Linked DNA regions of Homo sapiens: regions 1 and 3 are each linked to region 2. The links come from fine-mapping of genetic effects on gene expression. A gene starts in region 2. Each other region holds a variant in brackets. All regions are shown on one strand. Distances are from middle to middle.

The links.
Region 1: its variant is fine-mapped to the expression of CDCP1 in testis (GTEx, PIP above 0.99).
Region 3: its variant is fine-mapped to the expression of CDCP1 in testis (GTEx, PIP above 0.99).

What each region holds. Positions count from the first base shown.
Region 1 is chr3:45,090,691-45,093,451 of GRCh38, forward strand. CDCP1 (CUB domain containing protein 1) reads right to left here. Exons shown (of 9, transcript NM_022842.5): 6 at 2,587-2,761; 7 at 483-848. Among named protein-coding and RNA genes, the nearest start is that of CDCP1, 54 kb to the right of the region's middle. The variant C/T (reference allele first, on the strand shown) is at 1,592.
Region 2 is chr3:45,145,147-45,147,907 of GRCh38, forward strand. It overlaps CDCP1 (CUB domain containing protein 1), which reads right to left and starts at 1,232. Exons shown (of 9, transcript NM_022842.5): 1 at 1,060-1,232. The coding sequence starts at 1,141.
Region 3 is chr3:45,066,564-45,069,324 of GRCh38, forward strand. LOC124906233 (a long non-coding RNA gene) reads left to right here and starts at 1,594. Exons shown (of 3, transcript XR_007095898.1): 1 at 1,594-1,780. The variant T/A (reference allele first, on the strand shown) is at 1,657.

The DNA of each region.
Region 1 (2,761 bases), 54 kb before region 2:
TCCTAACCTAAAAGTATCAAAAGACCTTATATGCCTCCTCCAGTCTCTTGTGGATCTCTCTGCCTCTGCCATGAAAACAGCCCAGGCTGGAGAACAAGAGATCATGTAGAGTCAAGCCAAGTAATCTCAGTTGTCTCAGATGATCTTGGCTGAGCCTCAGCTTTTTGAAAGCACCAAGCTAAGATCAGCAAAGTCCTCTAGCCAACCTGCAGCTGCCAGTAGGTGCATGAATGACTGAGCCCTGATAAGTCCAGCTCAGACCAGAATTGCCCAGCCAACGTTGGAGCAATAATAGATGGCTGCTACTAAGCCACTATGTTCTGGGATGGTTTGTTACTCAGCACTATTGATGCAATAGCTGACTGATACATGGACAGTCAGGACTCAATCTGTGATTCTGACTTGTCTCCAGGCTTGCTCTCTATCCTCCAGCTGACAATTTTTTGTTCATCACTGTCCCCAAAGACCCTGAAGGCCCTTACCCACAGTCCTTGGGGTAAGTGTCACCGAGAAGAGCAGGTCTAGCTGCTTGCCGCTCGTGGGGCTGCAGTTAGAGATGTTGACCCAGAAGCTGTGATGGTGGAAGCTTGGCTTGGGGAGCACATCCTCGTCCAGGCTGAAGATCTCCTCAGCCCGGGTCCGCTGCTCCTGGATGATCATGAATGCGCGCCCTGTCTGGCAGACCACGCCGCTCCGCTCCTTAAAGAAAGTCAGGCAGGCCACCTGGTCTCTGGGCACGCTGATGTTCCAGGACACAGAGGTGAGGGATGGCAGGCCCCGGTCCCAGTTGGGGGTCCTCAGGTAGACCTTGCTTTTTGTGTCAGGGGTCACCGTGAAAACGCCTTCCTCTGCAGGAAAGGGAGGGAGATCCAGACAGATGTTTCATTCAGTCAACATGGAGAGGAAAGGGAGTGGTGGAGGAGACGAAGTCCAACTGTCCAGACCAGCGCTGTCTAACCGAACTTTCTGCGATGATGGAAATCTTCTAGATCTGCACCATCTGATAGGGTAGCCACCAGCTATATGTCTGCTGAGCCTTGAAATGTGCCCAGCATGACCAAAGAACTGCATTTTAAATTTGTTTCATGTTAATTTATTATTATTAGTTATTTTTGAGAGGGAGTCTCACTCTGTTGCCCAGGCTAGAGTGCAGTGGCACGATCTCGGCTCACTGCAAACTGCAACCTCCACCTCTCAGGTTCAAGCAATTCTCCAGCCTCAGCCTCCCGAGTAGCTAGGACTACAGGCATGAGCCACCATGACCGGCTAATTTTTTGTATTTTTAGTAGAGATGGGGTTTCACCGTGTTGGCCAGGCTGCTCTTGAACTCCTGAGCTCAAGTGATCTGCCTGCCTTGGCCTCCCAAAGAGCCGGGATTATAGGCATGAGCCACTGTGCCCAGCCTCATATTAATTTAAATTCAAATCATTGCTATGTGGCTAGCACCACTGTATTGGTCAGTGCTGGATCAGTCTCAGTCAGAGTAGGTACTCAGGACTTTTGAAAAAAAACAAAACAAACAGGCAAATAAAAACCAGGCAAGTTTCCCAAACTGGTGGTTATCTCAGCTTCCCTTCAGAAATGCTCTCAA[C/T]GTAGCTACTATATTCATCTATTGCCCTCTCCGGGGTGGGGCTGGTATAGCCTGATTTCTGTTTCAGAGATTAAAATATCTTCAGGTTCTGGGAAGAGTTCCGGAACTGCAAAGCTGAAAGAGCTCCTGACACGTCAACTAATCCCTTCCTTACCTTCAGGAGAGATAAAACCCACACATTCCACACTGATGAGAATGTGTCTTATTTGCAAAGACTCCTCAGAAGGAGTTTCTCTGGTAACCTTGGAGATATCAGGCAGCCTGGACCCACCTTAATCTTATGACCAAAGATTCTTCTCCCTCCCACTCACACCTCAGAGAATAAGAGTAGGAAATAAACATCAAAGGTCTTGGTCAATTTTAAAATGGCCTCTAACTTAATGTTCTTGGAGCAACTTGTAATGGTGACTGTGACTTTTAAAGTCAACCATGTAGAAGTCACGTTGTGAGCCATTTAGACCTCATTTACTGCCTCAGAACATGGAGACCACATGCCAGCCTCCCAGGAGGGTCGGGTCTGCCCAGCCGTGCTGCTGGACTCTGGCTCCAGAGACTCGTCTCCCTCCCAACGCTCCTCCCTCTGTGCTCTCGGCACTGCATTCTGAATTGTAAAAGCAGAGTCATAAAAATGTCTGCCTAAGGATTTTTATGTCACTACCTTAAAAATCCGGGACTGGGGAATATCTGGCTATTTCTCATTTACGTCCTGCCTGCTTCCAAAAAAGACTCAAACCTGATAATGTTTTTGCTGCCTACCAACCATCGCCTCTCACTGTCAGAAACATTTTTTATTTCTAATCTCAGGAATTTTCCATGCTAGGTTAATGGTAAAGTCAGGATTAGGACTCACTATCTTTCAAATTTCTTGTGCAAGGACCAGCATATTGAGCTATCCCTTCTTTCCAAACTGGCAACTTAATTAAGGTGATCACAAAACTAAAATCAAATAAACGCTTAAACTAAAGGGGCATGGAGATAGGGGAGACCCCCCTTACCTTTGAAATAAGGTATAAAGGACACCGTCAGACCCTGCCTGGAGGCCTCTTGTTGGAAGCTGGGGGCAAAGGTGCGAAGGGTCACCGAGATGTTCTGCTTCACCTGGATCTGCTTGATAGAGCCTCCCGGGCAGAAGGAGCCGAAGTACAGGTCCTGGCTGGGTATGGCACTGGC
Region 2 (2,761 bases):
TTTGTAAAGACGGCAGTCACCGGGACGCCCAAATTCAACCTCACTTGCGTCCTTTTATTCCTTTATCTAATTTACACCTGCCAAACACAAATCCACCCTAGATGCAGCAAGGGGAATCAAACCCACATGGCTTCCTGGAGAGCTCTATTTAAAAAACACAAAACCTGTACTAATCTCGCGAAACCTGTACTAGCCTCACATCAAGTTCTTACATGAAGAAACCAGGTTATTTACTACGTTCTAATACATCCAGGGCCCACAGGGCATTTCCTGGCTGGCACAGGTCACTGGGACGTGTTGGTCCCTTCCCCCAACCGAAACAACTCGAAATTCACACATATCCCCGGAACAACAGCCTCCTGCCCTCAAAGTCCACTGCCAAAAAGTGCGAGGGGCGCGGGAATGTCCAGTCTCTGCGGTGGCGCAGATGCCTGGCGGCTTTCTCTGGGACCCCCTAAAAGAAATCCGGGCGCTTTCATTTTTGCACCAACGCTCTTCAACTTTAGGAGAGGGGGAATGCAGCGTGCGGACGGGAAAAAGGGGATCTAGTGGGAAATGCGGACGTGAAAGCACTTTTTTTGCACCTTCTCTCTGGACCAGGCGAGGAGGTAGAGGGCGAGCCTGGAGAGGAAAGATCTCTTCCCACACCCTGCCTGGGTGCTTTCAAGAATCCCGGCAAAGACCCTGGGGCGCACGGCGCGCCACCTTGGACATGTCGCCTGGGATCGGCTACCGGGAGCTCCTTTTCCCGCCTTCTCGGCCAGCACCGGGCTCATCCTCCCGGACCGGGAGGCTCCCCGATCGGGGACACTCTCACGTGCCGAGGGCAAGGTTGACTCCAGGAGGGCAAGGCCCACGCGCCCGACGCGGCGCGCGCAGGAACCGAACAGTCCGGGGGTCCCGGAGCCACCCGCGCATTTTGACTACGCCGTCCCCGCCCTCTCTCCGCACCCTCCGCACCCTCCGCACCCTGCGTCCCTCGGCCGCATCTCCGCCGGGCGTCCGCTGGCTGGCTAGCTCACCACTCCACGCCATCCGCCTCCAAAGCCCGGCACTCACCTGCCCCGCGCGGCAGGCGCGCCGCACCCAGCAGCAGAACCCCTAGCAGTGCGATAGAGACCCCGCAGTTCAGGCCGGCCATGACTCCGGGACGCCTCGGCCTCGGTGGGGAAAACGACGGTGGGGAGCGGCGGCCCCAGGCGCCCAAGCCCGGCGCAGCTGCGCTCCGCCCTGGCTCACTCACCTGCGCGCGGGCGGACCGGCCCGAGCCCCGCCCTGCGCAGCAGGATCGCGAGCTGACCCGGTGCGTCCCTCCTCTCTCTCCTCCTCCTCTTCCTGCCTCAGCGACCGCCTCTCCCTCCCAGGGTGCAGGGCTCCCGGCACCGGGTTGCTGGGTCCCTACTACTCCCCATTGCGGCGTTGGAGCGGACTTGTCCCCACCTTTCCGGGCTTAGTCTTCCTTCCCAAGTCTGAGAATGATGAGGTCTTTTTCTCCAGAGTCGCGAAGGTCGCCCATAGAGGAAGCCAGTCTACCTTCCCTTTTCTGTCGAGGAGACAAAGGCCATTATGCGCCTCGTTTTGGAGAAGAATCCTATTTGTGGGCCACCCAAGCCCTGGATCCTCTGCTACTTGACTTGGGCCAGAGGTCTGTTGGACTTTAAAGCCGGTGGTGGTACAGCTAGTATTTGCAGGACGGTGAGCCTGCAGCCTACTCCACACACATCACCTGCAGTATTTCCAGACACGCAACGTGTCCAAGGTCCCCAGGGTAGCTAGTAAATTAGAGGCAGATGCACCACTTCGTTGAATTGTGAGTAGAGTAGTATGCATCCCTTCACTGAGCTGTGGATGGAGTAGTATGTGCCCTTCTCGAGTTGTATTATAAATGGAGTAGTGTGTGCAGTGTGAGCGTGAAGCATTCAGGTCAAACGTTGGGCTGGAAAATGAATGAAAAATGAATGGCGCTGGACTCCTTTTCCAAATCCTCCCAGCCGCAGGTGTGCCACCTGCCTGTCTTCAGAGGCCCTGTGGGTTCTCCTTCCACCCTGCCGGCCATACACCAAGTCCAGGCCACAGGCAGAGATTGCGGATGGTTCAGGAGTTCTTAGCTAGCAGACCTGGGTTCTGCCAGAATGACTCCCTGGGACTACTTGTGTTCATGGATAGCCAGAAGCTGGGCCAGAGTCACCCGGAGCAACCTGGGAGGCTTGGGACAGGAACCAAAGCATGTGCGACAGCATCAGTTTACAGTCCAGTCCCAACTTCTGCTTAATTCTTGCGGGCACTGAGCCTCTCCAGGCTGCCCCAATCCTCCTTGTGGACAGGGGTGGGAAATCATCTCCTAGGAGCGTCACCCCTTCCTTCTCGATGTCCTTAATCATGAGAATAGAGCTAGCTCTGCCCTCTGGGAGCCCACAGTCCATCGAGGGAGGCAGAACTTGGAACATGACCCTGCCCACACCCCCACCTCTGGGAGGGCCTGTATCGTGAGCTAAACGGGACCTTAGATGTAATCTTCTAGTCCACTTCTGTCCTTGTGCAGAAAAATGGGAAAACTGAGAACTAGAGGGAAGGGAGAGGATGAGAAACGAAGAGAGGCTCTTGGTTCTCCCCACTGAATCGAGGACAAATTCATCAAGAGAAAGAAATCTTGACAAAAATCTAAACAATCTTTAAAAATATTTATGCTGACCAGGAGGGTGAAAGGAGATTTGTCTTTTCTCCTGATTCTAAGCAGGCATATATATCCCAGCATCTTTTC
Region 3 (2,761 bases), 79 kb before region 2:
TCTGTGGCTATGGAGAGCCCACTGTAAAATCTCTCAGGTAGCATCTCTCAGAATAGCAAAAAAAATCTGTCCAGTTGAGTGTGGTGGTGACCTTTAGCTTCTTCTCTAGTGATTAATCTTCTCTGGTTAATGAGATTTCAGACAGGAAATTGAAGGCAATTGTGTCTCTTTTGGAAGAACTTCCCTCAGTTAGGTGAGGGAACTTCAGAGAGAGCCCTCCCTGTGCTTGGGGGAAGACACAAGGGAAGATCATAGACTTTGATTCTGGGGCAACTTCTAAGGCTTTCCAATTTATTTTAATTCTAAGTGCTCAGCATGCCAAAGCACCATGCTTTGGGGTATCATTTCCTGAGCCCCAACAATACATACCCATGTACACAAACATCATGGGCCTCTCACCCCACAAACTCCTTGACACAATGGTGGATGACTGTCTGATGCCCGTTTCTGTGGGTTTGCTTCTGGAACACTCTTAGATGAGGGGCCAAGCCACCCAGCAGCAGTGATGCCCTCAAAGGCCAGTCCCCTCCCCACTGGTTCTCTGTGGCTTCTCAAGGAGCAGCAAACTGGTGACTGTGACACAGCTGGACTAGGACTGAGCCTTAGCTCCCTCCTTTGTAAACTAGAGGCCTAAGGAAGGAACACTGAAATTTGTCATTTTGGATTGCTTAGTAACTATTCTCATTTCCTAATGGCATTCTGGCTTATTTGTGGGCATTTATACCTGTTTCCCACTGTGAGTGCTAAAGGGGTTGGATCACCCCTCTTTCCAGCCTGGCACAATCAGGGGTGGACCTTATGAGCTAGACTCAGCCAACAAGACATCCTCTTGGGGGACTCGGGGTTTTGAGTGAGGGGGCTGAGGACAAGGCTCATTCATTACTGTGGCAGCAGGTTCAGTGGACAGTTCTTGTGTCAAAGTGTAAGTAAAAAAAGTCAAAAATACGACTCATACAAAATAGGATGAACATGAGCCACAGAGCTTATTTAATTCATTAAGCAATGAGGGAAACAGTAAGATGAAAAGCTGGTTCTGAGAGCATATGAAGAATTGGGAAAGGCACACCAAAATAAACATTTTAAGTTGTACACAAACCTGGTTAATGTTCTATAGGGTAATAAAGCCATAGCGTACTTTCTGTTCAGTTTATGACATTAATATAATCCCAAGAGTTAGAACTAGGATTCCTCATCCTCCTTCTACGGAGGTTGCCAGACCTAAGTGCTTTTGGTACTCTCTTTCTCTTTTGATGCTGATTATTCGGGAAGTCACATGTGGCTCTGGATACTATCTTTCTTTCAAGATGTCAGGGGCATCTAAAAACCTGCCTGGGAATTTTTCTGTGCTCATGGGTGGGTGTTACATGTCATGAGATCAAGAACCCAAAAGCAGAGGATGAGATTGCCATATAAGACCTCTCGGAACCCAAGGCTTCATAATTGGAACATAGCAACATTTGCTGCATTGTTTTCCCATGTCTCTAGGTGACTGGATACTTATTATAGAATGCTGGTTGTTATGGTGATGAGAGATGGGGGAAACCAGGCCGATTGTACACTGTGAATGAAGGTTTAATCTATGTCATCCTTTGTCACAGGTCATCCTGTTGCCTGGGATGAAGTGTCACATAGTTTGAATCCACATTGCTTGCTGAC[T/A]TCATGGGGTGAATGAACTTTTCCAAGATTCTGGAAGCCTATTGTAATTTGTGTTCTCTACATTTTCCTGAGGTCCCAGGGATGCCGTGACTACTAAGCTCTATGGTAGGAGTTGGGGCAGGAGGTGAGTAGAGGTGACCAATGACTGGTGTGCCAAGGTCTTTCCCCCTCTGAGATTCCAGTCAATTCCAGGCATGGAGTTGTGGTTAAAAGAACCTCAGATGACATAAGAACAATACAACGGACATTGGGGACTTGGAGGAAAGAGTGGAAAGGAGGCAAGGGATAAAAGACTACAAATATGGTGCAGTGTATACTGCTCAGGTGATGGGTGCACCAAAATCTCACGAATCACCACTAAAGAACTTACTCATGTAACCAAATACCACCTATATCCCAATAACTCATGGAAAAATAAACTAAAATAATTTTAAAAAAGATTTAAATATAACCTCCTCAGAAAGGCCTTTCCTGACCACTCAAAGATAGCCACCCAGTTACTCTCTATATCATTCAGTTTTAATTCCTTAATTAGCTCATGCTGTTTATTTTGTAATTGTTTGTTCCCCACTCCAGATATAAAACACATCAGAGCAGGACCCTTATCTTGCTCATCGCTGTATCCCAGAGTGCTCGATAAATATTTGTTGATTGAAGGACCGTCTTCCGATTCAGTGACAGAGAGGTGGGCCATGAGGGAAATAAGGAAAAAAGTAGAAACAGGAAATGAAGAAAATCAGAAACAATTTAATACTCTATTGTGTGCAAAAATGAAGTAGAAAGAAGAGACAAGAAAATGTACATAAAGGGGTTAGAAGAAGGAGAGAGGAAAATAAATTACTGTTATGTTTTGGAAAAACTCTTAACTAGAGGGAAGGGAACTAACTTTATTGAGCTCCCTCTATGTAGGAAACCTAAATTACCAGATGATGTGGGGTTTTTGTTTGTTTGTTTGTTTGTTTGTTTTTTTGGACAGATTTTATTTCAACTTAGAGTCATCACCAAAATTACTTTCCTCATTTTCAACCTTTTCCTAGGAAGAAAAGAAAGTGAGCTATTTTATTCTATAGAAAGAAAAACAAATGCCTATTTGTTTTCATCAAGT